Linked DNA regions of Homo sapiens. The protein of the gene in region 3 interacts with the protein of the main gene of each other region in a biochemical or structural test. Each region holds a gene or a part of one and is shown on either strand. Other genes may lie near its edges. The genes, in order: LRFN5, FYN, PTPRF, LRFN2, PPFIA1, LRFN1 and ACAN.

What was found.
Region 1: the proteins of PTPRF (region 3) and LRFN5 interact in a biophysical measurement, tested with the Homo sapiens proteins (one large-scale study listed by IntAct).
Region 2: the proteins of PTPRF (region 3) and FYN form a complex in vitro, tested with the Homo sapiens proteins (one study listed by BioGRID).
Region 4: the proteins of PTPRF (region 3) and LRFN2 interact in a biophysical measurement, tested with the Homo sapiens proteins (one large-scale study listed by IntAct).
Region 5: the proteins of PTPRF (region 3) and PPFIA1 form a complex in vitro, tested with the Homo sapiens proteins (one study listed by BioGRID).
Region 6: the proteins of PTPRF (region 3) and LRFN1 interact in a biophysical measurement, tested with the Homo sapiens proteins (one large-scale study listed by IntAct).
Region 7: the proteins of PTPRF (region 3) and ACAN form a complex in vitro, tested with the Homo sapiens proteins (one study listed by BioGRID).

Annotation. Positions count from the first base shown.
Region 1 is NC_000014.9:41,605,731-41,609,675, reverse strand, and holds the start of LRFN5 (leucine-rich repeat and fibronectin type-III domain-containing protein 5 isoform 1 precursor), read right to left. Parts: upstream 2,801-3,945; 5' UTR 1,114-2,800; intron 1-1,113. UniProt on the Homo sapiens protein: Cell adhesion molecule that mediates homophilic cell-cell adhesion in a Ca(2+)-independent manner. Promotes neurite outgrowth in hippocampal neurons.
Region 2 is NC_000006.12:111,702,453-111,705,952, reverse strand, and holds part of FYN (tyrosine-protein kinase Fyn), read left to right. Parts: intron 1-1,850; coding exon 1,851-1,954; intron 1,955-2,918; coding exon 2,919-3,068; intron 3,069-3,500. UniProt on the Homo sapiens protein: Non-receptor tyrosine-protein kinase that plays a role in many biological processes including regulation of cell growth and survival, cell adhesion, integrin-mediated signaling, cytoskeletal remodeling, cell motility, immune response and axon guidance.
Region 3 is NC_000001.11:43,607,383-43,610,882, reverse strand, and holds part of PTPRF (receptor-type tyrosine-protein phosphatase F isoform 1 precursor), read right to left. Parts: intron 2,560-3,500; coding exon of another isoform or gene 2,548-2,559; intron 1,501-2,547; coding exon 1,385-1,500; intron 1-1,384. UniProt on the Homo sapiens protein: Possible cell adhesion receptor. It possesses an intrinsic protein tyrosine phosphatase activity (PTPase) and dephosphorylates EPHA2 regulating its activity.
Region 4 is NC_000006.12:40,584,565-40,588,858, reverse strand, and holds the start of LRFN2 (leucine-rich repeat and fibronectin type-III domain-containing protein 2 precursor), read left to right. Parts: upstream 1-1,494; 5' UTR 1,495-1,918; intron 1,919-4,294. UniProt on the Homo sapiens protein: Promotes neurite outgrowth in hippocampal neurons. Enhances the cell surface expression of 2 NMDA receptor subunits GRIN1 and GRIN2A. May play a role in redistributing DLG4 to the cell periphery.
Region 5 is NC_000011.10:70,273,690-70,277,189, reverse strand, and holds part of PPFIA1 (liprin-alpha-1), read right to left. Parts: intron 1-3,500. UniProt on the Homo sapiens protein: May regulate the disassembly of focal adhesions. May localize receptor-like tyrosine phosphatases type 2A at specific sites on the plasma membrane, possibly regulating their interaction with the extracellular environment and their association with substrates.
Region 6 is NC_000019.10:39,318,064-39,322,078, forward strand, and holds the start of LRFN1 (leucine-rich repeat and fibronectin type III domain-containing protein 1 precursor), read right to left. Parts: upstream 2,801-4,015; 5' UTR 2,730-2,800; exon of another isoform or gene 2,427-2,729; intron 296-2,426; 5' UTR 263-295; intron 1-262. UniProt on the Homo sapiens protein: Promotes neurite outgrowth in hippocampal neurons. Involved in the regulation and maintenance of excitatory synapses. Induces the clustering of excitatory postsynaptic proteins, including DLG4, DLGAP1, GRIA1 and GRIN1.
Region 7 is NC_000015.10:88,855,436-88,858,935, reverse strand, and holds part of ACAN (aggrecan core protein isoform 3 precursor), read right to left. Parts: coding exon 1-3,500. UniProt on the Homo sapiens protein: This proteoglycan is a major component of extracellular matrix of cartilagenous tissues. A major function of this protein is to resist compression in cartilage. It binds avidly to hyaluronic acid via an N-terminal globular region.

The DNA.
Region 1 (3,945 bases), on a different chromosome or scaffold from region 3:
CAGACCGTCTTCACTATGGAATAAAACATTGATGAGACTACTTTGGAAGTGCTTTATCTTGTTAATTCTAATGTCTTCGAGAAAGGAGTGAAATTTTCCGATGGGGGCGGGCGCTGAGATAAGACGAAAGGGAATTCAGGGGAAAAAAAGGCGCCAGGGTAAAGGGCTTTGGAAGTTAACTAAATTTGTTCTGCTTCAGCCGGCCATGGAAATCTCATTTTAACATACCAGACCCAATATGTTAATTAGGCAGTCGCAAATCCAACCTGCTCCTTGTAAATCAAGGCACCGGAAAAAAAAAATTCAAAATATCTATTATACAGGGATAAAACAAACAAACAAACAACAACAACAAAAAAACGCGCAAAGGAGTTGCGTGTCCGTGACGGGGACAATACAGCTGGAGAGAATGTTGGGTGGTGGCTATCGTTTTAGCCTGGTTCTGCTAGATATAAAAATGACTTCTTTCATGGATTTATTCTGCTACATAAAAGCACGTCCTGGCAGTTAAACACCATATCTCAAGACACACAGCCGTGACAATATGTATTCCCTTTCATGCAAACCAAGTTCCAAGAAAACTCCATTTCGAGTCAAAGTCTCCAGATGCGTAATTTACAACTACTAAAAAGATCTGGCAAGCTCCTCCACAACAAGGAAAGGAAAACAACCTGGCACCAGAGGTAGAAAAGGGTAGAAAAGATCTTTGGTTTAAATGATGGGTGGAAACCAAACACCCACTCACACTTCACAATCTGGAAAGGGTTGGGTACCAAATGGTCCGTGGCAACCACAGCCTGAAGGAAACACAGAATTTTGATCTCTGGCATCTTCAGACAGGTTCCACACGCCTAGCTCTCAAAAAATATCCTCAGGGTGGAGCACATCCATATTCTCAAAGCTTTCACTACTAGATTAAGTGCTTAGGTATAGATTTATATTTCACCTACTAGAAATCGTATTACAAAATCACAGAGCAGGCGCCCTTGGATACCCAACCCTTCCCAATGATTTTCAAAACATTAATAAGTAAAGTAGCCTGCAATGCAGATAAGACACTAGAAACAAGATCAAAAGGAAATTGGGTGAGGCGAGTAATCGTTGGTTTGTTACCTGGTGCCTCTAAGGGAAAAGACGGTCGTAGGAAGACTTTCTGCCTGCAGGTACAATCCCGGCAAGGTGGCTCCAGGTGGCTTTCACAGTCGTACGCGGGTCTCGCTCGTCACTTCGCTGCCCTTTGCCATAGCTCAGCACCCGCATCGTAGGGAATCGGAAAGGCGGCTCCTGCCACTGCCGCCGCTGCCCGCAGGTCGCTCTGGGTGGGGGAATCGCTGCAATCGCCCCATGAAACCCGCGGCTCCGCGCCCGGGGAGCGGGCAGAGGCAGGGCGGCCGCGCACGCACACACAGACACACGCTCACACTCACACACACTCGCACCCGGGCGCGCGCGCACTTGCACTCACACTCGCACACGCACACCCAGCACTGCACGGGGAGGAAGCAGCACGGAGGGAACCGGTCCTTCTCACGATTGGCTTCGAAGCCCACCGGACCGCGGGCAGCAAAGAGAGCGTTCTCGCATAGCCCTTTAATCACGTTTCCTTCAAGTTCTCCTCCAACCCGAATCCACGTAATTCAAGAGCTGGTGACATTTTGGTGGGGAGGAGGGAGCCGAGAAAGGGCTGAGGAAGAGTCGGGGATTTTGTTAAGCAGTTTAATAAGCAATCCTCATTACCTTATTTGTTTTGTTTTGTTTTGTATAGCAAACCAGTTCGAAGGGCTGAACTTTTGGCTTCAAATGCTGTGAACCAAAACGTAAATATCCTTCTGGCCAAGAGAAGAAGGTGTAGATACACGGAAACAAGAGGGCTGCAAGACACTCTCTTGACCTTGTGATGTACCTGGAAGCAGGTTAATATTGGCGCTTTCCAAGCTTCTGGGTAAAGCGATCCACACACCTGGGTCCACAGCCCAGCAGCCGCTCCAAATCCAGCCAGGAAAATGGGTCTGGGCGTCCTCAGAGCTCTGCAAGAACCCGGGCATGAAGGGGCATCGCCGAGTTAACACATTTGCTTCTGGGCAGTTGGATAAAAGACAGTCAAATGCATCAGATAGGCGCGCGCGTACACACGCGCGCGCACACACACACGCAGCTAGCTGGAAAGCGGCTTACAAAACACTAGAGACATGCCAAGATGACTTGAAAAGGTAGCCAACATCCAGGATCTTTCCGGAACACAGAAGGGCCAGCAGGGAGGTTATCAAAGTCTTCTCAAGTCTTTCAATTCTTCCTCTCTCCTCTGAGTGTGTGTGTGTCTGTCTAGGTTTCGTTGGTCTGCCCCACCCCCGTCCAGTTGCGCTTTTTTTTTCTGATATAACGGACCGTGCAAAATGGATTATATGGGTGGGCTGTGTTCACAGCCAGAGCTCCCCAAAGTCAAGGATCCTAAGGGAGCAGCCAGCTGCTAAACAATTCACATCCTCAAGGGAAGAAGGAAAAACACGCTCAAACACACGCAAACACGCGCACACACATACATAGTCCTCCGTTCGGGCAGCTCTGCACACGCTCACCGCCTCCCTGCGCGCCGCGGAACACAGCGCCCCGCCCGCTGGCCACCGCGCTGGGGCGAGTCCGCAGTTCAGGCGCGAGGCAAGCAGCCGAGGTCCGGGGCTGCGGCCGCGGCCGGGGCGGACCCGGGAGCTGGGCTTCCCAAAGCGTCGCGTGTGGGCAACGGCGGCCTCCTGGCCGCGTGGAACTGAGCCCTGCGCTGCAGCATGAAGGCGGCGGCGGCGGCGGCGGCGGGCGCGCGGCCGTGAGCTCAGCCCGCGCTGCAGTGACGGGAGCGGCCGTGTCGGCCAGACCCCGAGAGTCCGTGAGACCCCGGCCGGGGCCGCTCCGCTGCTGTCAGCCCTCGGGCCTCCCAGCCAGACTGGTTCTGAACCGATTTATCAGGGGGTTGCGGAGAGGGCCGGCGAAGCGCCAGGAAATCCCCAGGCTGAGGAGGCGCGGGGGCGTTGCAGGAAGGGGGAAGGGAAAAGGCAGAAAACCTGGAGAATGAAAGCGAACTTCCAGGGGCGTCCCCAGCCTCCTGCAAAAGGGCAATTTGCTGATCGCCCACTTCCTCGCAGTTACGGGATAGAGAGAATCATCACTGAGTCAAGCTTCGGCTGCTTAGGGCGGTGGGAAAAGTCATTATCTATAATAACCCGCCGGAAATTTTGAGGAGAGCTACTGACTTGGGGGTTTCAGTCATCTGAGGCTGGCTTCCGCTGTCCCCTTAGTTGTGGGTGGTGATTTGCTTACTAATCAGATGGGAGCGGATTCTGAAAAGAACATTTATATTTGGGAATCAACTCAGCTCAGCATCAGACATTACGAATACTGCAGTTGGTCACATTTTACTATGTGAAGGGCAGAAAGGGAGCCCAACAGTCTTCATAAGCCAGACCTAGTCTCTAAGGTCACCGGCACAGACGCAGGGTCTAAAGCAGGAAAGAGGTGCGACTGGAAAGGAGGTTAGACAGGGCCCTGCGGGAATGGATCTGCCCGGAGCCCTCGCCTGGTTTTGCTTGAGACTCCGACAAGACTCCCAATGCTTCTCTCCCCGACCCTATCCCCACTCCCTCCATCCTGGAAAAGCCAGTGAGCAAAGTTAACTCTTTCTTCTAAGAAACCCTGAGTGAAATCTTGCTCTTCCTTTCTGCTAGAGTCCTGAAACCCTTTCGCTTCTCATTGTGGGTTCACCAGCACGTGGTCTTCGGACACTGAGAGCACCTTCGCTCTCAGCTGTGATCCTAGCTAGCCCAGACACCAGTCTGTACCCAAAGGAAGAGTAGGAAGTTGCAAAGGGAAGCTGGCTAACAAGGGCTTCTTCTGCCCTACTTGGCAAAGGCCCATACGGGTGGCCTCCGTGGATATGGAGCTCCTTCATTTTGTTCC
Region 2 (3,500 bases), on a different chromosome or scaffold from region 3:
TACAGGGTCCACCGTGATGGCTCCCTCCTGTAATCCCAGCACTTGGGAGGCCAGGGCGAGAGGATCACTTGAGCCCAGGAGTTTGAGACCATGCTGGGCAACATAGGGAGACAGTCTCACTCTGTCCCCAGGCTAGAGTGCAGTGGCCCTGTCTCAGCTCACTGCAACCTCCACATCCCTGGTTCAAGCAATTCTCGTGCCCCAGCCTCCCGAATAGCTGAGATTACAGGCACATGCCACCATGCCCAGCTAATTTTTGTATTTTCAGTAGAGTTGGGATTTCACCATGTTGGCCAGGGTGGCCTCGAACTCCAGACCTCAGGTGATCTGCCTGCCTCAGCCTCCCAAAGTGCTGGAATTACAATCATGAGCCACCACTCTTAGCCTCTACAAAAAAAATTTTTTTAGTTAGCAGGTGTGGTGATGTGCACCTTTAGTCCCAGGAGGCTGAGGTAGGAAGATTGCTTGAGCCTGGAGAGGTCAAGGCTGCAGTGAGCTATGATTATGCCACTGCACTCCAGCCTGGGTGACAGAGTGAGACCCTGTCTCAAGAAAAAAAAAAAAAAAAGAAGAAGAAGATGATGAACACAGATCACAATCCAGGTGCTTGGTAAATAAATGCCTTTACTTATCCAAGTCCTCACACACCTAGGGGAGGAAAACAAAATACAAGTAAGTACTCATGGGCGTTTTTCTCAGAATTCTTATAGGGAGGAAGTTATTGAAAATACTATTCCTTTATTCATATCATATCTATCTAATCTGACTTTTTTTAATGCTTGATTATCTTCATATACATTAAGACTGTGTTTTGTTATTTCCCAGCAGTTACAATAATGCTTAGATATCAAGAGATTCAAGAGTTTTGTTTTTTTGTTTATTTTTTGTTATGAGACAGAGTCTCGCTCTGTTGCCCAGGCTGGAGTGCAGTGGCGCAATCCTGGCTCACTGCAACCTCCACCTTCCAGATTCAAGCAATTCTCCTGCCTCAGCCTCCTGAGTAGCTGGGATTACAGGTGCATGCCACCACACCCAGCTAATTTTTTGTATTTTTAGTGGAGATGGGGTTTCACCATGATAGCCAGCATTGTCTCCATCTCCTGACTTCATGATCCACCCACCTTGGCCTCCCAAAGTGCTAGGATTACAGGCATGAGCCACCATGCCTGGCGTTTGTTTTTTTTGTTTTGTTTTGTTTTGAGACACGGCTTTGCTCTGTCACCCAGGCTGGAATACTATGGCACAATCTCAGCTCACTGCAGCCTGGGCCTCCCAGGTTCAAGTGATTCTCCTGCCTCAGCCTCCCGAGTACCTGGGATTACAGGTGCCCACCACCACACCAAGCTAATTTTTGTATTTTTAGTAGAGCTGGGGTTTCACCATGTTGGCCAGGCTGATCTCAAACTCCTGACCTCAGGTGATCTGCCCACCTCGGCCTCCCAAAGTGCTGGGATTACAGGTATGAGCCACCATGCCCAGACTAGAGTCTTTTAGATAAGTGTGGAAAGGGTCTCCTGCAGTAACCATTTCAAATCAAGGTCTTAGATTTCTGGTTTTTTGCATACAGGTGGCAGTTTTAACACAAACCAGTTCTGGTCATGTCTAGAGGGGAGGAAAACAACCCACAACTCAAATCTGATTTTTTTTAAAGAGTGAAAGAGATGAATTAGGGATAGAATCCAGGATAGATTGAAAAGGAACTGAATTAAGCTAGAAAAAAAATACATCCAGGGAAAGGTTAAGGACTAAATTGGAGGAGAGGGGAATTCATGGGCAAAAAAAAAGCCTATGCTGTTGCATTTTGTAAATGACTATTTCAAAATATTTTCTTTCCTTGATCTAATTTAAAGGTGGTACTTTGGAAAACTTGGCCGAAAAGATGCTGAGCGACAGCTATTGTCCTTTGGAAACCCAAGAGGTACCTTTCTTATCCGCGAGAGTGAAACCACCAAAGGTAAGATAACGAGTTGAAGAAGTTGGCTTGTCATTCAAATCTGTGGATTAGTCAGAGGGGATGAAAGGCTTATCTCTAATGTACAAGGATTTTAAAATGGCACATACCCTCCCTGCCTTGTGAGTGGAGTCCTGTTTTCAGTCTTCCCTCCAGGCTCTAAAACTGCAGACAGCACCAAAAGAACTACAGAGGCCCCAAATCAAGACCTTCCTCCTGAAACGGGCTGGATGCAGCTACACTGCTCCAGGCACACAAGATCGTAGAATTTTCAGAAGTCCTTTAGAATTTTGATTTTCTGAAATCTTAGTTCCTCAGGTGCCAGTCATACAGGTTGTTTTTGCTTTCCTTTTGTTTTTTAAATAACTGAGGACTTCACTTCTCTTCCTCCAACTGTTGGACTTTTCATTATTTAACAACTCCTTACAACCCACAAGAGGAGACAGGTCAAGGAAGAAAAGAGTAGTGGCCTCTAGCTTAATTTGCCAGATTATCCATTCCTGTAAAAAGTGTTGTAAAGCAGAAGCTTGAAGCTCACTTCTAGAGAAACAAGCCTTAGATTTCTTTTGCACATGCTGCTGCTACCTCCCAGTATGCCCCTGGGTAGAGAAGACAAGGGAAGCAAGCTCAGCCATTCATCGTGGTCCTTCTTTACCCTTGGGGGAAAGGAGTGTTGGAATTGAGTCTACGCTGTATTATGCAACAAGGGGTACCGAACAGTGTGTTTAAGAAAAATGTCCAGGAAGCTTTCAGTCTCAAGGGCAGAATCATTTTATTGCTAATATATTCTGACATTTGCAGAACATCAAGAAGCATCTTCTTCCTGTTACTGAGTGGAGATGCTGTGTGTGTGTACATGTGTGTGTGCATCCTTGGTAATTATTAATCAGAGTCAAGAAAATGAGGCCTAAAAAGCAAGCTGATACTCTAAATGATTGGAGCTGCTAATGCTTTCCACGTTTACCAGGTGCCTATTCACTTTCTATCCGTGATTGGGATGATATGAAAGGAGACCATGTCAAACATTATAAAATTCGCAAACTTGACAATGGTGGATACTACATTACCACCCGGGCCCAGTTTGAAACACTTCAGCAGCTTGTACAACATTACTCAGGTAACCTTAATTCTAACTACCTACTAACCATTTGGATGCTGGAGGGAGTGGATAGGCCCAGAGCAGGAAAGTGGAAAGGGGTAAAACTAATATGTACAAAATCACTTATAGAGTATGTTTTCTTTGCCAGCCCTTAATGGTAGGGCTTGGCTGTATAGGTTCTATTGCTATTGTTCTACTGTTGTTATTATTAGTTCCACATGTTTGTCCGAAGATTCTATAATATTTTTGTTTCCCAAGTAGAAAGCAATAGGTTAAATTTTAAAAGTTGTTTGTTTTTTCATCTTCAAGTTGTCTTTTCCCATTCCCCGCGTTGCATGTGAGAAAGCAGTCTCTCGGAGGGCGCTTACATGGGGACTCCTACAAGGAATATTGTGTTTCCACTATCACTTTACCCTCAGCACTGTTGCAGGAATAGCTGCACGTACATTT
Region 3 (3,500 bases):
ATTTATTTGTTTATTTTTGAGATGGGGTTTTGCTCTTGTCACCCAGGCTGGAATGCGATGGTACGATCTTGGCTCACGCAACCTCTACCTCCTGGGTTCAAGTGATTCTCCTGCCTCAGCCTCCTGAGTAGCTGGGATGACAGGGGCCACACACCTGGCTAATTTTTGTACTTTTAGTAGAGATGGGATTTCATTAGCTGGTCTCGAACTCCTGACCTCAGGTGATCCACCCGGCTCAGCCTCCCAAAGTGCTGGGATCACAGGCATGAGCCACCACGCCCAGCCAGTAAAAATTTATTTACAAAAACAGGTGGTGGGCTGTACTTGGCCACGGGCCATAGTCTGCCAACCCCTGCTTTAAATGACTCTAGCTCCCAGCCTTCAAGTCTTCCGGCTGAGGGCCCAGACTTTCTGGAATAAAGACAAGCTGTTCCTGCTGTGCCCCTGTCTGAATTCCTGCCTCACAAAAACTGTGACAGATAATACATAATTATTGTTGTTTTAAGCCACTAAGTTTTGGGGTAATTTGACATGCAGAATAACCAGCTCATACATACACAAACCCTGTGTGTATGCATTAGTTCACTCATTCCTTCATTTGTCTGTGTGTTCATTTCACAGGCATTCAACAAGAACCCATCGTGCGCTGAATACAAGGGATGGGGGATGACAAGACACAGTTCCTGGCACCACAGAGCTCAGAGACTGTCACTGAGGTAATCCCAGCTCACTGTGAGAGGCGTCAAAAGGAAGAAGGAGGGAGGTTCCTGGAGCCAAGAAGAGACACCTAACCCTGTGGGGGTGTGGGCAAGAGGAGAGGTCTGAGCTGTGTCTGCTGGGTGTTGGGAGGAGTAACATTTCAGGTAGAAGGAAGAGGTGGACAGCCCCATGAGAGTGGCTAGGAGAAGGGGCAGGTACGTGGTATGGTAAACCTGGGGTCGGCCTCCAGGAAGGCTCAGGTGCAGGCACTTCATCTCCCCACAGATGTCTGGTGAGGCATCTCCCACTGCTAACATGCCCCTCTTTCATGTGGAGGCGTCAGAGCGTGCGCCAGACACTGGCCACCCTGTGGCAGAGACGTGGGCTCTGGGAGGTCCTCAGCCCATATTCAGAGGCCTTGACTGAAGACAAGGCAGTGGCTAAGTGGCTTTGCCACCTAAGAGGGTCCTGGCCTGGGGCACCTGTCCAGCTGCAGGATATGGGGGCTCCCCAGTCATTCCAACCAAAGTGGATGAGCACAGGGAGAAGGGCAGAAAGGAAGAAAAGGAGCAGGAACAAGTGCATGCGGCCCAGGAACTTCAGTGGCGACCCTGAGACCTGCAGAACAGACCCACAGGCCTGCTAGGTCTGGGCTGGGGGCACACAGGCCATAGGAGTGCCCTACCTGGGGTCTGGTAGTTGAGCCTCCGCATCTCCACAGGGTCAGAGGAGTGGGCCAGCAAGGAGTCCTTCAGTCCGATCGACTGCTCATCCTTAGAGGACGGAGAGTGGGTCCTTTTCCTAGAGAGACAGAAGGGAGGCTGGTGAGAACCTGAGGTCCAGGCTGAGACAGTGACACATGGCATGGCTGGCTGCCAAGGAGCCCCCATGTCCACGGCTCTGTCCTCCTACTGCCCCACCTCTTCCCAGGATCTCTGAGCGCGGAGGAGCCAGGGCCAGAACAGCCTTGACATGAGAGAACACAGGGCAGGGAGGGGGTAGGGAGAGCAGGAGTGTGGCGTGAGCAGAGGGGCAGTGCAGCAGGGAGGAAGGGGTTGCAGGGGCGAGCAGCTCCTTTGGATAGAAGGCAGGTCACTGCAGGACAGTGACTGCTATCTCCAAGGCCACCCAGCTGAGTAGCAGGAACCACCGGGAACAAACATGCAAATGACACATAAAATACACAAACAGCACAGGAGACAGGGCCCCAGCTTTTTGGCCCTCAGAGTATCAGGGTAAATGCCCAGGGCAGCAGGGGAGGGACGGGAAAGGCGTCACCCTAGCTGGGCAGAGTCCTCTCTCACTGGCCTCAGTTTTCCCATCTACAAGGACAGGGTCAGAGACAGACCATAGGATTCAGCTGCCAACAAATAGCCAGAGGCTACTTGTGGTCTGCAGACGCATGTGCTTCGGAAAGAAGAATTTGAGTGAGTGTGCTCAGGTGGGTACAAGGACATGCCTCTCTGCTGTTCCACACAGTGACTGCTCTTTGCTCTGTGCGAGACTGTCTCTCGCAGCACTTAGGCAACTTCTCAGAGAACTGGGAGCCGGGTGATGGTTCTGGTGAGCTCTGTACGCTCAGGGAAAGCAATGCAGTCTGTATTATGTATGTGCCCCAGAGAAGAAGCATCCTCTGCAGAGTTGAACTGGCAAGAGTGAGACAGAAACTGCCTCCTCACACCAATGAGGACTCAGTCCTGAACCAGGGAGCCTGCTGAGCTGACTGGACAGTTTGCTGCTTAAAGCCATAGGCCAGGGGACTTCTGGTCAAAGCGTCATCCCTCCCTGCTGGCCCAAGGATTAGAAGTAGAGGGGGAGGTGTGTGAAGAGAGAAGGAACAACTCCTACCTTTCTTGTTTACTAGGTCCCGAAAGACAAGCAAGGACAGAAGAAAGGAACGGTCACAGTTTCCACCAAGCACTCAGCCCTCTAATGACATGGGGACCCTGCAGGCCCCTTATATGGCACCCACATGACATTCACAGGGAGGGGGTCTACCTCTCTGGACAGACCCAGAATGCAGGTGGAAGTGGGAAGGATGAGTGCATCTGTGGGACACTCCTTAGGGACCCGCCCACAGGTCCATCCACCCTGGGAGGAAGGAGTGGACTCTTTAGGAAGGAACAGTGGGTCCAGGGTAGGCACACAGGATACAGGCTCTCCTGCATGGTGCAGAGATGTGCTCAGACACACAGACTAGCATATCTTCATCTGCCAGGTGCTCACTGACATGCCTGTGGGCTCAGCCCAGTGCTGGGGGCTGAAGGCTTGGCACACAGGCCCAGCTGCGTTTGCAGTGGAGCATCACAGGGGACAGCTGTGCAAGGAAGGGGTAGGGGCCAGGCAAGGCCTTGCAGGCACCAGAGCATGGACTTGAGTCCTGAACGATGAGATTGCTGTTGCCAAGTGGGCAGGGGGAGGGAGATCCGCAGAGGGCACACCCTGTGTGGGCCTGAACACTGAATGAGTTCAGTGTCGCAATGTCAGGAGTGTGGCAGGGGTCAGATTAGCCAGGTGTTTGGCTGTCAGGCTAAAGAGGGTGGGCTTTACGTGGGCAGCCATCAAAAGGTTTTAAACTGAGAGTGACAAAGTTAAATCTTTGGAAATCCCTTTCAGGCTGGAAGGTGCACGGATAGGAAGGGAGACTCCTAGGGCAGGTGGTGGCCACTGCCGATAGAGAACTGAGTGGGAAAGACACACTGAGGCTGAGGCCGCTGCGGATGGCACGGGCACAGCAGGCCATCAGTCATGTCTGTTAGTGAGCATCCATGGCCTGTGGGCCTCCAGCTCGACCTCTCTAG
Region 4 (4,294 bases), on a different chromosome or scaffold from region 3:
TATGCAGCATGCCAGTTTGGCAGTTTCCCGGGGTGCACATGTGGAGGGTGCACACATGAGGACCAGCTGCCTCGGCTTCTGCAGTTATGCATGTGTGTAGAGAGGACACAGGGTCGTATGTTACAGATGTATCCAGCCGAGCCAATCCTGGGCTGCAGAGACACATCCACATGCAACATGTGCCTCCCTGTGGGTAACCGGGACAGGTGCACGGGATGTGTTAGCCACCAGGAGAGAAGAGAAGGACTGCAACATTGACATTCTTCCTGCCCCTGGATTTACCAGCTGGAGTACCAACAGGAATCTCAAAATTTCATTTCCTTTAGAAGGAAGGAAATGCCTCTTGGGGAGTCCAGTAAGGCAGAGGACGGTCCTACCTTTCTGGTAACTAGTTGTTTATAGTGAACCGAGAGGATAACCAAAGACGAGACCTTGGCCAGACCTGGGTGTTCTGACTGTGAGCTCACAGTCTGCTTTGAGTAGGGTCTCCGCTACCTACCACATGCCTTGGACAAGTCACTTTACTCTTTTGGGCCTCAGTTTCCTTATACATCAAATGAGGGTTGCTGAGAAGATCAAACAAGTGAAGAGTTGTAAAGATGCTGTGCAAACACTTGGCGCCACTGCACCCTTCACTGATTCTTGTAATAATCATGAAAAGTCAAAGTGCGTGTGTGTGCGTGCACGGGGCGCTCGTTATTCATAGGTCCCTTACCAGGATTCGAGAATCTGAACTGGGCCCCAGGACTGGGTGGGCGCGATCGCCCCAGCCCCCACTCCCAGCCTAGGGCCGGCGCGGTCGGGTTTTCCTCCAGCAGGCGGCGGGCTGACGGCTGCAGGGCGCGCTAGGCACGTGAGGTGGCAGCGCCGTCGCCAGCTGCAGAGGTGCAGCCCTGGCCGCCCGGCTCGCCTTCCGCAGGGGCTGCCCGTGCCGCTGGACCGCGGAGACCGCCCTCCCGGTTCCGGGGCTCGCGGCCTGCCCACCTCCCTCCGCGACTGCGGCCCCAGCCCACTCCCGCCCCACCGTGCGTCCCCGCGCCACCCCTGCCAGGACCGTGAATCCCTCTGGTTTCCGCGGCGGTGTTGGTCGTCTCGGAAGCGGGTGCGCTCGGCAGCGGGCAGGGCAGCGGGCGCAGAGGCTGCCTTCGGCTCCTGCAGCTCCGCGGTTCGCCACTGGGGGCTGCCGCGCCGGAGAGCTCGGCGGGGACGGTGCGCACGGCCGCCGGGTTCCTGGGCGCCTCTGGCCGCTGGGTTTTCTCCACTGCTGGCCCTGCGCTGTCTCCGCAGCCCGCCCGACTCCCTCCCAGATTGGAGCGTGTGATCCGTGTGTGTGTGTGTGTGCGTGTGTGTGTGTGTGTGTGTGTGGAGCGGAGAGAGAAACCGGGTACGCGCGTATGCGCGCGCGCGTGGGGGGCAGTGTGCATGCGGGGAGTACGGGGGAGTGTGTTTGTGTGTGCGTGTGGGTGTGAGTGCCTGGCTCCCTCTCGCTGAGACACACATACACTCACACATACACAACCCGGCAGGCTCGTCTGAACTTGAAGACACCCCACATTCCAAGATGCCCGAGGTTCCTGGGAATGCCTGGGGTTCTTCGATCCGGAAAATCCTACCGGCATCCTCCTAGGGAGGGATTATTATTATTATTTTTCTTTAATCTGGAAGAGAAGAGAACAAGTTGTGCTTTTCCCCCCTTCTTCTTGCTAAATGCCATGGATATAACTGAATAAGCGGCTCAGGGCTTTCCCCGCGTGGACGTCCGAGGCCACCATCTGCCTGCATTCGCCGGAGCCGCCGGAGGGTTTAGCTCGAGTCTGTCTCGGGCGGGGAAGGATGCGTGGCCGAGCCGGGGAGCCCGGGCGCCCCGCGGAGCCGGCCTCGGTGCCACCCAGCCGGGGGTAGATGCTGCCTCGCCCAGGTGAGTGGTCGCCGGCGCTGCGTCTTTGCGATCCCGGGTGTCCGCGGGAGCTCGGCGCGGGGCTGAACGCACCCGAGGGAACCGGGAACTTTGCATCCCTTTCTTTTTCTCTTGAAGACTCCCCGCATCCTAGGTGCTCATGCGGACACCCCCTTCTCTTTTCGCCCATCCTTATCGCGAGAGATTTCCTTTCCTTTCTTTAGTCTTTATTTCCTACAGTGGGGGTGAAACTCTGGCGGGGAGCGGGGAGAGCCGGGTCCATGTGAGACTGGAGAGCCGGATGGAGAGACGGGGAGCCACGGGTGGATGGAACCGTTGAAAACAGCAGGAGAACTTTGCCGCCAGACCACTCTGTTGCATCTCCGCACATGCAAGGCCTGGCTAGAGCCATTGCTGGGGGCTAGGTGGGGGCGCCGGGGACTCCCTGAGCTCTGTGGACTGGGTGGGGTGGGGTAAAGCCAAGTGCGGAAGGGTTGATGCAGAGCGGATGGGAGGAAGGAAGGCATGGTTGCAGTTTGTGGGGGCAGGTAGGGCAGGTTCAGGGACCCTATGCTGGCCTCAGGCAGAAAGCAGATCAGGGGGATTGTGTGTGTGTGCAGCTTGGGGCATCAGAATGGCATGATGAAGCAATATGGAAAGTGGCATTAGCCATGCCTGGGTTCCTAGGTCTCTGTCTCCCACCCAGCCCTGCCCTGGTTCTAAGGTTGGCCTGGGCAGGGAGGAGGGAGAGCAGTAGACCGTTCCGAGGTGGACAGTGCCTTACTTTGCACAGACCTTCTGAGGGAGGTGTCCTACTCGTCTTCCCATCAGCCCGGTACAAAGGACAGAGACAGAGAGTTCTAGGGAGATAGAGCCTCTGAAAACCAGAGCAGGAGGGAGAAGAGAGCCTGAGTGGAGACCGCAGAGGGACTGAGCCAGACTGTTGCCAAATGCACCCGGCGACAGCAGACAGCTGCAGACGGACAGACACCTGCAGGGACAGGGAACATGTCAGAGCCTGCACTCTTGAGTTGGAGTTACAGGCATGGCTATAGATGATGACCCCCTCCCCTGGCCACAATGGAGTGTGTGTGTGTGTGTGTGTGTGTACGCGTGTGTGTGTGTACGCATGTGTATGTTTCAGGGAGGTGGCAGCTGTGGCCTCCATGGCCTGATTGGCCTTCTAGTACTGGGGGAGGGGGAAGCTTCAGGAATTTGACCCCCTGCTGCTGGGGAGGAGCAAAGCTAGGGAGGAAACTGCCATTCCCTGGGCTGTGAAGTTCCCAGGGGCCAGGGCTAGAGGTTCTATGTGGGCTGTTATTCTTGTGTGGGGGCCGATTTGGAACTCAAGGTGGGGAGCAAGGGAACTAGGTCTTGGGGTTGTGCCCTGGTCTGGTCGCTGCCCTCTGGCAGGAGCTTTATATAGCCACACACAGCAGAGCCCTGAGGGTAGTGTCATTTCCTTGTGGGGTACATCAGAGGCTGAAGGGGGTCAGAGTCCTGTAGGGAGGATTCAGAAGCTCCAAAAGGCCTGCACTTGGAGCCGTCATCCTCCGCCGACCATGCCAGCTGCCTGGGCCCTTCTGCTGATGCTGGAATGTCATCTTTCCCTTCTGACTCTGGCTGGGAGTGCAGAGTTGCATCTCCCTCTGGCCTCCTCACATGCTTCTGCTCAGGCCCCCTGCCCAGCCCTCAATTTAGAGTTTCTGGTCTAATTCCTGACCAGGAATGTAATTATTTATCTTCCTGCCCTCATCCTGGGGATGCAAACAGCAAACTTGGCATTTCTGTTTCAGCCTCTGGAAGGTTGGCTCCCAGTTCCATCTCCTGTCTAGAAGAACTGGGTGCCTGCCTGCTGTGGGCTGGAGGCTGGGGTTCAGGGCTCCTTCTTCTGTGAAGTGCCAGTTCTTTGCTCAGGCCCAGAAACGTGAGAAGCTGGGGAGTCTGGCCTGAGAGAGGGTGAGCTGGGAGCTTCCAGGAGGTGAGGCTGAGGAGGAGAAGCAAGATAGATGGGAAGAAAATGCAGTCAGAGTGGGTGGGGCCACCGGGGAAACCAGGCAGCCTTCTGGCCAACTGAGTCCTTCTTTGACTGAAGGAGGAATTGCTCTTCTTATCTTTGCTTCAGCTCCAAAGGAAAAAAAAAAAACAGGGATTCTGGCCTCCAAGTGCCAGTTTGCCAAGCCTCTTCAGCCTGTGGGGTTGAGCAGGTTCTGCTCTCCTTTTTTGCAGGGTGGATGTATAGAGGCTTATAAGCTCCTGGCGTGGGGTCTGTCTACCCAGGGACAGTGGAGAAGTGAAATTGGAATTAATTGTTTTCAGAAACTCCCCTTTCCTAAGGTAGATATTAGCATCTAGGGAGTTCACAGTCTGATGGGGGAGGCTGCTAGACTGGAAGCA
Region 5 (3,500 bases), on a different chromosome or scaffold from region 3:
AATAAATATAAATTAAACTGAAATATATAAAACAATGACACAAAAGGTAGGAGGGAGTTAAATCCAGTTCAAGTATCTAAGGACTTGACCCTGGGAGACACAATGAGACTGTGCCTGGAAAAAAAAAAATATATATATATATATATATATATCTCAATCAAACAAAAAAAAAGCAAAAAAAAAAAAGTAGAAATTAATGCAATAGAAAACAAATGTAAGTAGAAAAAAATGTAAAGCCGAAAGTTGGTCCCTTAAAAGAACTTACAAAATTGACAAACCCCCAACAAGACTGATTAAGAGATAATATATGAATTACTGATATCAAGAATTATTAAAAGGGAACATCACTACAGATCTTGCAGATAATAAGGATTACAAACCACTTTAAACTTACAAATTGGAAAGTCTGGGTGGCCTGAACAAATCTCTAGCGGGGAAAAATGCTTTATCTAAATAGACACATGAAGAAATATTCAAAATCCTACATCTACCTATAAAATTAATTCTAAAATTTTTCCTTCTCACAAGGAAAACCCTGTACCAGCTGGTTTTGCCAAAGAATTATTTCAAACATTTAAGGAAGAAAACACAAATTTCGTAGGAACTCTTCTAGGGAGTAGAAAAAGAAGGAATACATTCCACCTTGTTTTAAGAAACCAGCATAACCTTGATACCAAATCCCAACAAGGGTACTGAAGGAAACTGAAATTATAAGTCAATCTTTCTCGTGAATATAAATGCAATAATCCTAAACAAAATACTACCAAATATAATCCAGTAAAAGGAGAATACATCAAGATCAGGTTGGAATTATTCTACAATTGTAAATTTTTTTTAAAAGGGAGGTGCTCTTTCTCAGGAGCTCCTGAAGTTGCTTCCCCAGGCTACAAACAATATGCAATTAAAAAAAAAAAAAAAAGCAAGGCGCAGTGGCGTGCGTCTATAATTCCAACTACTTGAGAGGCTGAGGTGGGAAGATCACTTTAGCCCAGGAGTTCAAGGCTACAGCGAGCTATGATGGTGCCACTGCACTCCGGGCTGGGTAATGGAGCAAGACCCCATCTCAAAAATAAACAAACAAAAACAGTTAAATTCCCACATAACAGAAAAATCACATGACTGTCTCAAAAGATGCAGAAAATCCATGTTAAGAAATTTAATACCTGCTCATGGTTTTTAAAAAACTCTTGGCAAACTAAGAAGAGGAGAATTTTTACATTTTGATAAAGAATATCTACAGGGCCAGGTGTGGTGGCTCACAGTGGTAATCCCAGCACTTTGGGAGACCAAGGTGAGAGGATCGCTTGACACCAGGAGTTGGAGACTAGTCTGGGCAACCGAGTGAGTACCCTTTTCTTAAATTACCAGATCTCAAGACAGACTATATCTATGGGAATTTAGACATTGTGCTATTTGTGCAAAGATGACAAAAAGATCAAAGGAGCAGAAGAGAGTCCAGAAACAGACCCACACACTTACAGTCACTGGACTGAGATGACACTGCATGTAGTACACTGGGGAAAGAATAGTCTTTTAAGAAATTATGCAAGGTCAACTAGATATCCATTTAAAAAAAGAAAGAGAGACTCTTGGCCCCATCGCATACCATAAACAAAGTCAATTTCAGATGGAAGATTAAAAAATAGTTTTTAGAAGACAATGTAGAATATCTCATGAACTTGACCAAGCAAATTTCTTAAACAGGACACAAAGAGCATTAAACATTACTGAAAAGATGGATCAACTGGGCTACATTAAAAATTTTACACTTCTATGTATCAAAAGATACAACTGAGAGAGTGAAAAGGCAAACACAAGAGTCTAAAAACAATCTGTCATGCACATATGTACTCAGAATATAGAGAAAACTCCTTCAAATCAGTAAAAAACAAAACAGACAACCCAATCAACAGATGGGCAAAAGATAACCGTTTCACAAAAGACATCCAGGTGGCCAGTGAACACAGGTAGAGATGCTTTACCTCTGCATGTTCCTGGCCATCAGGGAGCAGCAAATTCAGACCATACTGAGCCACCTACCAGCTAACAGCCACCAGAACAGCTAAAATGTAAAGACCCAACAATACCAAGTGCTGAAGAGCATAGGAGCAACTGACTTCTCATACATTGCTGGGGTAGTACAAACTGTCACAACCACCACTTTTGGCACTCTCTACTGAGGCTGAACAAATGCACACACCATCATTTGCATTCCACTTCTTTGTAGAAATCCAACAGAAGTGTACACATATCCTCCGGCCTGGGCAACATGGTAAAACCCCACCTCTACAAAAAATACAAAAATTAGCGGAGGGTGGTGATGCGTGCCTGTATTCCCAGCTACTTGGGAGGCTGAGGCAGGAGAATCGCTTCAACCTGGGAGGTGGAGGCTACAGTGAGCCGAGATCATGCCACTGCACTCCAGCCTGGGCAACAGAGTGAGACCCTATCTCAAAAAAAAAAAAGTTTATAGACATCTGCACCAAAAAACAAACAATATTAGGGGAGCACGTGTAAAAACTGGAAACAACCCCAAATGTCTGTGAGCAGTAGAAAGAATAAGTTCTGTCTGTTCGTGCACGGGATGACCAGAGAGCAGGTGAGAATGAGCAAGCTGCATCTCACAAACATGATGCTGACGACAGAATGAAGAAGCAAAACATACAGATTATTTTACTTCACTTAAACAAAGTCAAGAACAGGCAAAAGTAATCAATGGTGAAAGGTCAAGACCTTGGTTAGCTCTGGGGGACAACTACTGGGAATAGTTAGGAGGGGACTTCTAGGAAGCCTGATAATGTTCCATTTCTTGATCTGGGTGGTGGTATGCAAGTGTGTTAACTTTGTGAAAAGTCCACTGAGATGTATACTTACGATTTGTGAATTTTTCTGCTGTATGCTATAGTTATGTATATTTTTAAGTACACTCTAACTTGCCTCCACAATGTGCCAGGAGCACAAATGCACTTCCTGGACTCATTATCTGGTCACACTACCAGCCACCAAAGATGAACCAGATGCCAGGAAAGGGAAGGGTCCAAAACAAGTTTACTTAATAGTTTCCATTTTTGAAAGGCTGGAATCAGGTGCTCAGGTGGTAACGTGAACCGTTGGCATCATCATGTTATCCACTGAACTAGGCATTCCCAGGCTGCTACACTGAGCAGTGCCAGAAACAAATCACTGAGCAACCATGTCACCAGTGTGTGTGACAACCTCCACAGCCTGCGACTAACTGTACAAAACTCCTGTCACTTCCCTGACATGTCTTGTGTGCCCATTCTTTCCAAAACCTACCTTATTAAGTATATTAGTATTTGATATACACTTCAATACGTGTACCTTAAATTACAAATACAATAAAATCCTGGTAAAACATAAATTGGCTACTTCTTTTAAAATTGTAGTAATAAAATTCAACATAAATAAACTTGGTAATTTATAAGATTGAAATAAGAAAAATCTTAATGATTCTTTAATCCAACAAAAAAGGAACATAG
Region 6 (4,015 bases), on a different chromosome or scaffold from region 3:
ATGAATGTCTCTTGGCCTGAAACCCCCCACCTGCTCCCCAGAGCCACCTGGCCACCACAAGCCCTCACCCAACTTTGATGTTCCTGACCTTGTCACCACTCCCCAGCCTTGGACAGAGTGGTGGGCAACTGGTCCTTCAGGAAACTGTCATCCCCTGAACTGAAATCCATGCGAGGCAGGGTTCCAGACCCCCAGCTGGCTGACAGCAAGCCCCATCACCCCCCATGTCTCTCTCTCTCTGAAGCCTTACGGCTCTACTCACCTCTCTTCAGGGAGTCAGGGCCTGGGCCAGCACCTGCAAAGGAACAGAACCACCTTGTTAGCATCGTTCTGGCTCTTCTCTGTGCACCAGATCTTGCCTTGGAGACCATCCCGGCCAAGGAAGTCCCTGGTGTGATCACGCTCTCAGTCCTCCTGTGGCGGGTTTTGCATAGTCTCACAGGAACCCAGAAGTCCTCTCTGGAATCCTAGATTAGGCCTCAGGGTTGTTCACCCTCCAAAGCCCAGGAGTCGAGGACTTTAGCCCTTTGTCCTCTGGGGTTTCAGGAGCCAAGAACCCCAGCCCCCTCTTCCCTCTGACCCAAGAGTCCAGACCAGACCTCTGGCCCTCCATTAGAACCCAAGAGTTTACATCCCAGCCCCTCAACTCCAAAGTCCTGAACGGTACCAAGAGCTGGGGAAGGGCCAAAGTTTCCCATCCTTGCCATGATACTATTGCCCACACCAACATGTGTGTCCATGTCAGAACCCACGCAAGCCCACAACCCAAGTCTCTACATCTGGATTTCTATGAACATAGCAACATGATCTGTGTGCCCTCCGCCCTCTATGGGCACTTGGCCTGGCATATGGACACACTGTGTCCAGGGACCCCAGGCGGGACCCCAGTATACCAGAGGTCATGCCACATGGGCCTCAAACCCACTGAACCCAAGAGTAGGGACAGCCTTGTGCCAGGGCACAGACACATGTGTCTTTCACATACATGTCTGAACATACACAACCCCCAGAGACCAACACCAAAACACAAACAGACTCACAACATAGATGGATACATACCCTCAAGGTTGACACACCTGCATGCAACAATACATGTACAACACTGACTCTGCCATGCAAGTTCACACACACAAATGCACAGATACAACAGAGAAACTCATGTGCCCCCTAACAGACAACCAGGTACATGCATTTACAACAGATCTACCTTGCACACTCACCAGCACACAGGGGCACACACATCTAACAAACACACACACACCTGTGCAAACATACACAAGTGCACACTCTTAAATGCCTAGACACACTCATACTTCACACATCTCCATGTTGCAAAGTTGATACAGCACCACGCTAACAGATACATACCTCACACACACACACACACACACAAAACCACAAGCATACAGATACGAGGCTGATCCACACTGGAACACGCACACAGGCACAAAAAGATCCACCTTTGCAGACACGCCAAGATGTTCACTCATAACAGACACATGCTCACACAACAGTCCTGTGATTTACACACTTCCAAATGCATAGAAAATACTGAACCACAGTAGCACAGTCAGTAGACAGGCCCAGATTCACACTCACACAGTCTTGGACACACATTCCTCCCAGCCCTGAGGCACCCCCCCACCACCCCACCTACTTACTTCCCAGGCCCAAGAAATCCTAACATCCCTGCAGCACATTCAGCATCCTGCCCTCCACACCCCCAAAAAACCAGGGCAAAAGCCAGGCCAGAGGTCAGAGTTCAGCAGGTGGAAACTCAAGAGGATTTGGGGGTTTGAGTCCTAGATCACCGTTTCAAGGAGATCCTCCCACCAGCAGCCCCAAAGGTTCCCCAGCCTGGCCATCAGGATGGAGGTAACTCTGGCTCCGTCTGCAGATGTCTGGCCGGTGGGGGAATTAGGGTGGAGTGGGTGGGGAAGGGCCGGGTCTTCGCCCCCCAACCCCCACCTCAGGGCCCATCTGTCCATTTCTCGGCCTCTCATCCCCCCTCCATCTGTCCACCTCCTGGCCGCCCATCCCCCCCCCGCAACCACCGGGAAGGGGAAGACATGGCCGCTTCCCCCAGGACCGCTAAGGACCCCCCAGTTGACATGGACCGAGGGAGCGGCGAACTCCCCTCCCCCAAATCCACACCGAGGCCTGGGCGCCGAGCCTCAGCCCCCAAGCCAGCAACCTGCCGTGGACTCACAGATACACACCCTCGGAGACATACAACCCGCAGACACACACACACACACACACACACACACACACACACAAATGGACACCCGAGCGGGCACACCCGGCTCCACAGACCCGGGGATGGACATCCAACCCGGACACAAACACCCAGAGCAGCTAGTCGCGCACGCACATGGGCTTGGGGGGGACCCACACCTGGGCACACAACCCACGCACACACACACCTGCACACAGCCCCTCCGATGGGCGCGCGACAGCGCCCAGACACACAGCCGGAGGGGCGGCCGCTCGGGGGGACACGCGTGCACAGCCGGACACGCCGGCCGGGCTCGACACCCCGCGCACACCCGATGGCCACACGGGCAGGGCGCCGCACACGCCGGCACCGGGCACACATAGGGCCGCGCGGGCGCACGCCGGGCCCGCCGCAGCGCCACGGACACACACTCGCACGCTCGCACGCTCACACCCGCGCACACACCCGCGCCCCCGCCCGCCGCTCCCGGGCCGCTGCAGGCCGCGCTCACCCAGCCCGGGGGGGCCCCGGGCCCGGCCCCGCCGCCGCTGCCTCGCTCCGCGCCATGGTGGGGGGAGGGCCGGGGGAGGGGGCGCGGTGCCGCGGGGCCGCCTCCCTCCCGCCTCCCGCCCTCCCTCCCGAGCCGCAGCCGAGCTCCGCCCTCCGCGCCGCCCGCCGCCACCGCCGCCGCAAGGGGGGAGGGGGCGCCGACTGGTGGGGGCGGCCGGGCGGGGCGGTCGCACACCCGGGATCCCCGCCCCGAACCCGCCGCAGACCCCTCTCCACTGCCGAGCCGCCGCGGGCCCGCCCCCGACCCTTCCCCAGCCCCACCCCCAGCCCCGCCGGCCTCCCCGGAGACCCCCCCAGACCACGCCCCAACTGGCCTAGGGACCCCGGATCTCCCTACAGAGACCTCCCATCACGTCCTAATACCCAGGGGGACCTCGGATCAGGCCTCACCTCTTTTGAGAACCCAGGCGATGTTCTAGGGCCACCCAGGACCACAAATCATGCCCTGCTCTCCTGCTTGACCTCAGACTATGACCCACACACTGTCAGGAACCCCAGACCATGCCCCCAAACCCAGAAGAATCCCAGATCATATCCCAGCATCCAAGGGGATCCAGACCACCCCACCAGCAACCCTAAATCATATCCCAACATTCAGATAGACCCCCAGACCACACCCCTTCCCTCACGGACCCCAAATCATACCCTAACATCGGGGGAGACTTCAGACCATATGTCAGCCAAATCCCAGATGGTGCCTGACTCCCTTTGGGGACCCAAACCACATTCTACAGCCACCAGAACCACAAATCATATTCCACTCCTTCTTGGGGACCCCCAGCCATGTCCTTCTACCCTCAAGGACCCTAACCCATTCCCTTACCCCCAGTATGAACTCCAAACCATGCCTAACTTCTAGGGGGCCCTAAAATGTCTCTTATCCCTATGGAAGACCCTTAAACTTTCCCCATGAACCCCATTAGACCCCAAACCATCTTCCACCCCTTTGACCTTACACCTTTCTCTCTCCTTCTCCTCCAAGACATCCTTTGGTTTCCAAAACTCCCCAATTAGCCCCAATTTTTTCCCACCCCCTACTAGTCCTGCCCCCTTGAGGACCCTGCCTCCTTCTTGCTCCAGTTCTTTCTCTTGGACCCTGAAAGTCCCCCCTCCCTGTGACTTCCATAGAGCCCAGAATGCCTTGCTCCTTCCTAGTTCAGACCCCTTTGCCCATCCCCTGTCCCATAGCTGAACCCCACCCCTTCCCTCAAACCCCACTGAGTATCT
Region 7 (3,500 bases), on a different chromosome or scaffold from region 3:
GGGGCGGCAGATGCCCCGAACCCAGCTTCAGGATAGGCGGACGTCTCACTGCTAGATTCTGGGACTGATGATACTTCTACTCCAGACCCAGGGAGCACTGGGGTAGCTCCACTAATGTCCCCAGCTGTGGAGACTTTTCCACTGGACTCAAAAAGCTGGGGTGTGTGTGTCACAGGGGGCCTTTGGCCTAGTTCCTGAGAAATAGTTGGTTCAGTAACACCCTCCACGAACTCAGAAGTGATTAAAGTAACTTCTGGAAGTCCTGAGGCCTCTCCACTGGTGCCCATGGCTACAGAGGATTCTCCACTTACATTGGTGGTGCTGGCAAAATCCCCACTAAAATATGGAGTACCTGGTGGCTCTCCGCTGGGCTCTATCAGCCCGGACTGCAGCCCACTTAGGTCCAGAAATCCAGAATGCTCCCCAGACATGTCTGGTGCTCCAGAATGAGCACCACTGAGTTCTAAAATGCCAGAAGGCCCTTCTCCTGCCTCTTGGGCTGTTGGAGCCTGGGTTACAGATTCCACCAAAGTTCTGTCTACAAGAGAGACAGTGGGGAAACTAGATGGAGTTCCACTGCCATAATATGCTCCCGAGGGCAGGCTGCTCCCAATCTCAGCTCTGGAGGATTCTCCACTGACCTCAGCTATGCCACTTGGTAGGCCACTGAATTCCGGAGTCTGGGATGTAAACCCACTGGAATCGACTGTTCCAGAAAACTGTCCACTGACATCCACCATCCCAGATTTGCCTGACAGATCTGCCTCTCCGGAAGGGAGGCCACTGAGTTCCACAGACCCTAAGCCTTCTTCTTCTTTAAATGTAGTAGGGGCCACTTCAACCAAACTGGTGTCCACAAATGTAATCCCAGAAGATTCACCGCTGCCACTCGTGGTACCAGAAACCAGGTCAGGGACTCCTGATGTTGCCCCACTGAACCCTGGTAACCCTGAAGGCTGCCCACTGAGATCAGGGACCCCAGATGTTTCTCCACTCAGATCAGTTATGCCAAAGGGTTGACTAGTGCCATAAAGAACTCCAGATGCTTCTCCACTAATACCTGGTTGTCCAGAGGACAGCCCGCTAAGCTCAGTCACTCCAGATGTTTCCCCACTAGTGTCAGGAAACCCTGATGGCTGTCCACTGACACCAAAGAGTCCAGGTATTTCCCCACTGACATCAGGAGACCCAGATGCTTGGCCACTGAGTTCAGTTCCTGAAGGGAGTCCACTAGCTCTCCCACTAATGTCCAGCTCACTGGAGGGCAGTCCAGATATTTCTCCTGCACCACTGATGCCAATGGTTCCCCTCCCTTCCAGTTCACTTGCAGTGGAGGCTGTGACCACTTCCACCAATGTAGAATCCACTAGGGAAACAGTTGGGAATCCAGATGGAAGTCCACTAAAGTCAGGCAGGCCAGAGGGTGGGCCACTTCCAAGGTCCACCCCAGAATACTCACCACTAAATCCAGAGGGAAGACCACTTGTTTCTGGAGCTTGCCCACTTCCTAGAGTTCCAGAAGGCAGTTTGCCCAAGTCCAAGTCTCCAGAAGCTGACCCCACCAAGTCTTCTTTTCCAGAAGGCAACCCACTGAGGTCCTCAGCTCCAGAAGCTGAAGTCTCTAGACCCTCCCTTCCAGAAGGAAGCCCACTGAGGTCAGTCCCTACTTCAGAAGCAGAGGTCTCTAGACCTTCTCCTCCAGAAGGAAGTCCACTGAGGTCCCCAAATCCAGAGGCAGAAATCTCTAGAACTTCTTCTCCAGAAGGGAGCCTGCTGAGGTCCTCTACTCCAGAAGCAGAGGTCTCTAGACCTTCTCCTGAAGGAAGTTCACTGACATCCTCTATTCCAGAGGCAGAAGTCTCTACAACCTCTCCAGAAGGAAGCCCACTGATGTCCTCTACTCCAGAGACAGAAATCTCTAGAACTTCTCCTCCAGAAGGAAGTCCACTGAGGTCCCCTACCGCAGAGGTAGAAGTCTCTAGAACTTCTCCAGAAGGAAGCCCGCTGATCTCCTCTACTCCAGGGGCAGTAGTCTCTAGAACTTCTCCAGAAGGAAGCCCACTGATCTCATCTACTCCAGGGGCAGTAGTCTCTAGAACTTCTCCAGAAGGAAGCCCGCTGATCTCCTCTACTCCAGGGGCAGTAGTCTCTAGAACTTCTCCAGAAGGAAGCCCGCTGATGTCCTCTACTCCAGGGGCAGCAGTCTCTAGAACTTCTCCAGAAGGAAGCCCGCTGATGTCCTCTACTCCAGGGGCAGCAGTCTCTAGAACTTCTCCAGAAGGAAGCCCGCTGATGTCCTCTACTCCAGGGGCAGCAGTCTCTAGAACTTCTCCAGAAGGAAGCCCGCTGATGTCCTCTACTCCAGGGGCAGCAGTCTCTAGAACTTCTCCAGAAGGAAGCCCGCTGATGTCCTCTACTCCAGGGGCAGCAGTCTCTAGAACTTCTCCAGAAGGAAGCCCGCTGATGTCCTCTACTCCAGGGGCAGCAGTCTCTAGAACTTCTCCAGAAGGAAGCCCGCTGATGTCCTCTACTCCAGGGGCAGCAGTCTCTAGAACTTCTCCAGAAGGAAGCCCGCTGATGTCCTCTACTCCAGGGGCAGCAGTCTCTAGAACTTCTCCAGAAGGAAGCCCGCTGATGTCCTCTACTCCAGGGGCAGCAGTCTCTAGAACTTCTCCAGAAGGAAGCCCGCTGATGTCCTCTACTCCAGGGGCAGCGGTCTCTAGAACTTCTCCAGAAGGAAGCCCGCTGATGTCCTCTACTCCAGGGGCAGCGGTCTCTAGAACTTCTCCAGAAGGAAGCCCGCTGATGTCCTCTACTCCAGGGGCAGCGGTCTCTAGAACTTCTCCAGAAGGAAGCCCGCTGATGTCCTCTACTCCAGGGGCAGCGGTCTCTAGAACTTCTCCAGAAGGAAGCCCGCTGATGTCCTCTACTCCAGGGGCAGCGGTCTCTAGAACTTCTCCAGAAGGAAGCCCGCTGATGTCCTCTACTCCAGGGGCAGCGGTCTCTAGAACTTCTCCAGAAGGAAGCCCGCTGATGTCCTCTACTCCAGGGGCAGCGGTCTCTAGAACTTCTCCAGAAGGAAGCCCGCTGATGTCCTCTACTCCAGGGGCAGTGGTCTCTAGAACTTCTCCAGAAGGAAGCCCGCTGATGTCCTCTACTCCAGGGGCAGTGGTCTCTAGAACTTCTCCAGAAGGAAGCCCGCTGATGTCCTCTACTCCAGGGGCAGTGGTCTCTAGAACTTCTCCAGAAGGAAGCCCGCTGATGTCCTCTACTCCAGGGGCAGTGGTCTCTAGAACTTCTCCAGAAGGAAGCCCGCTGATGTCCTCTACTCCAGGGGCAGTGGTCTCTAGAACTTCTCCAGAAGGAAGCCCGCTGATGTCCTCTACTCCAGGGGCAGTGGTCTCTAGAACTTCTCCAGAAGGAAGCCCACTGAGGTCTCCTACTCCAGAGGCAGAGGTCTCTAGAACTTCTCCAGAAGGAAGTCCACTGAGATCCCCAAC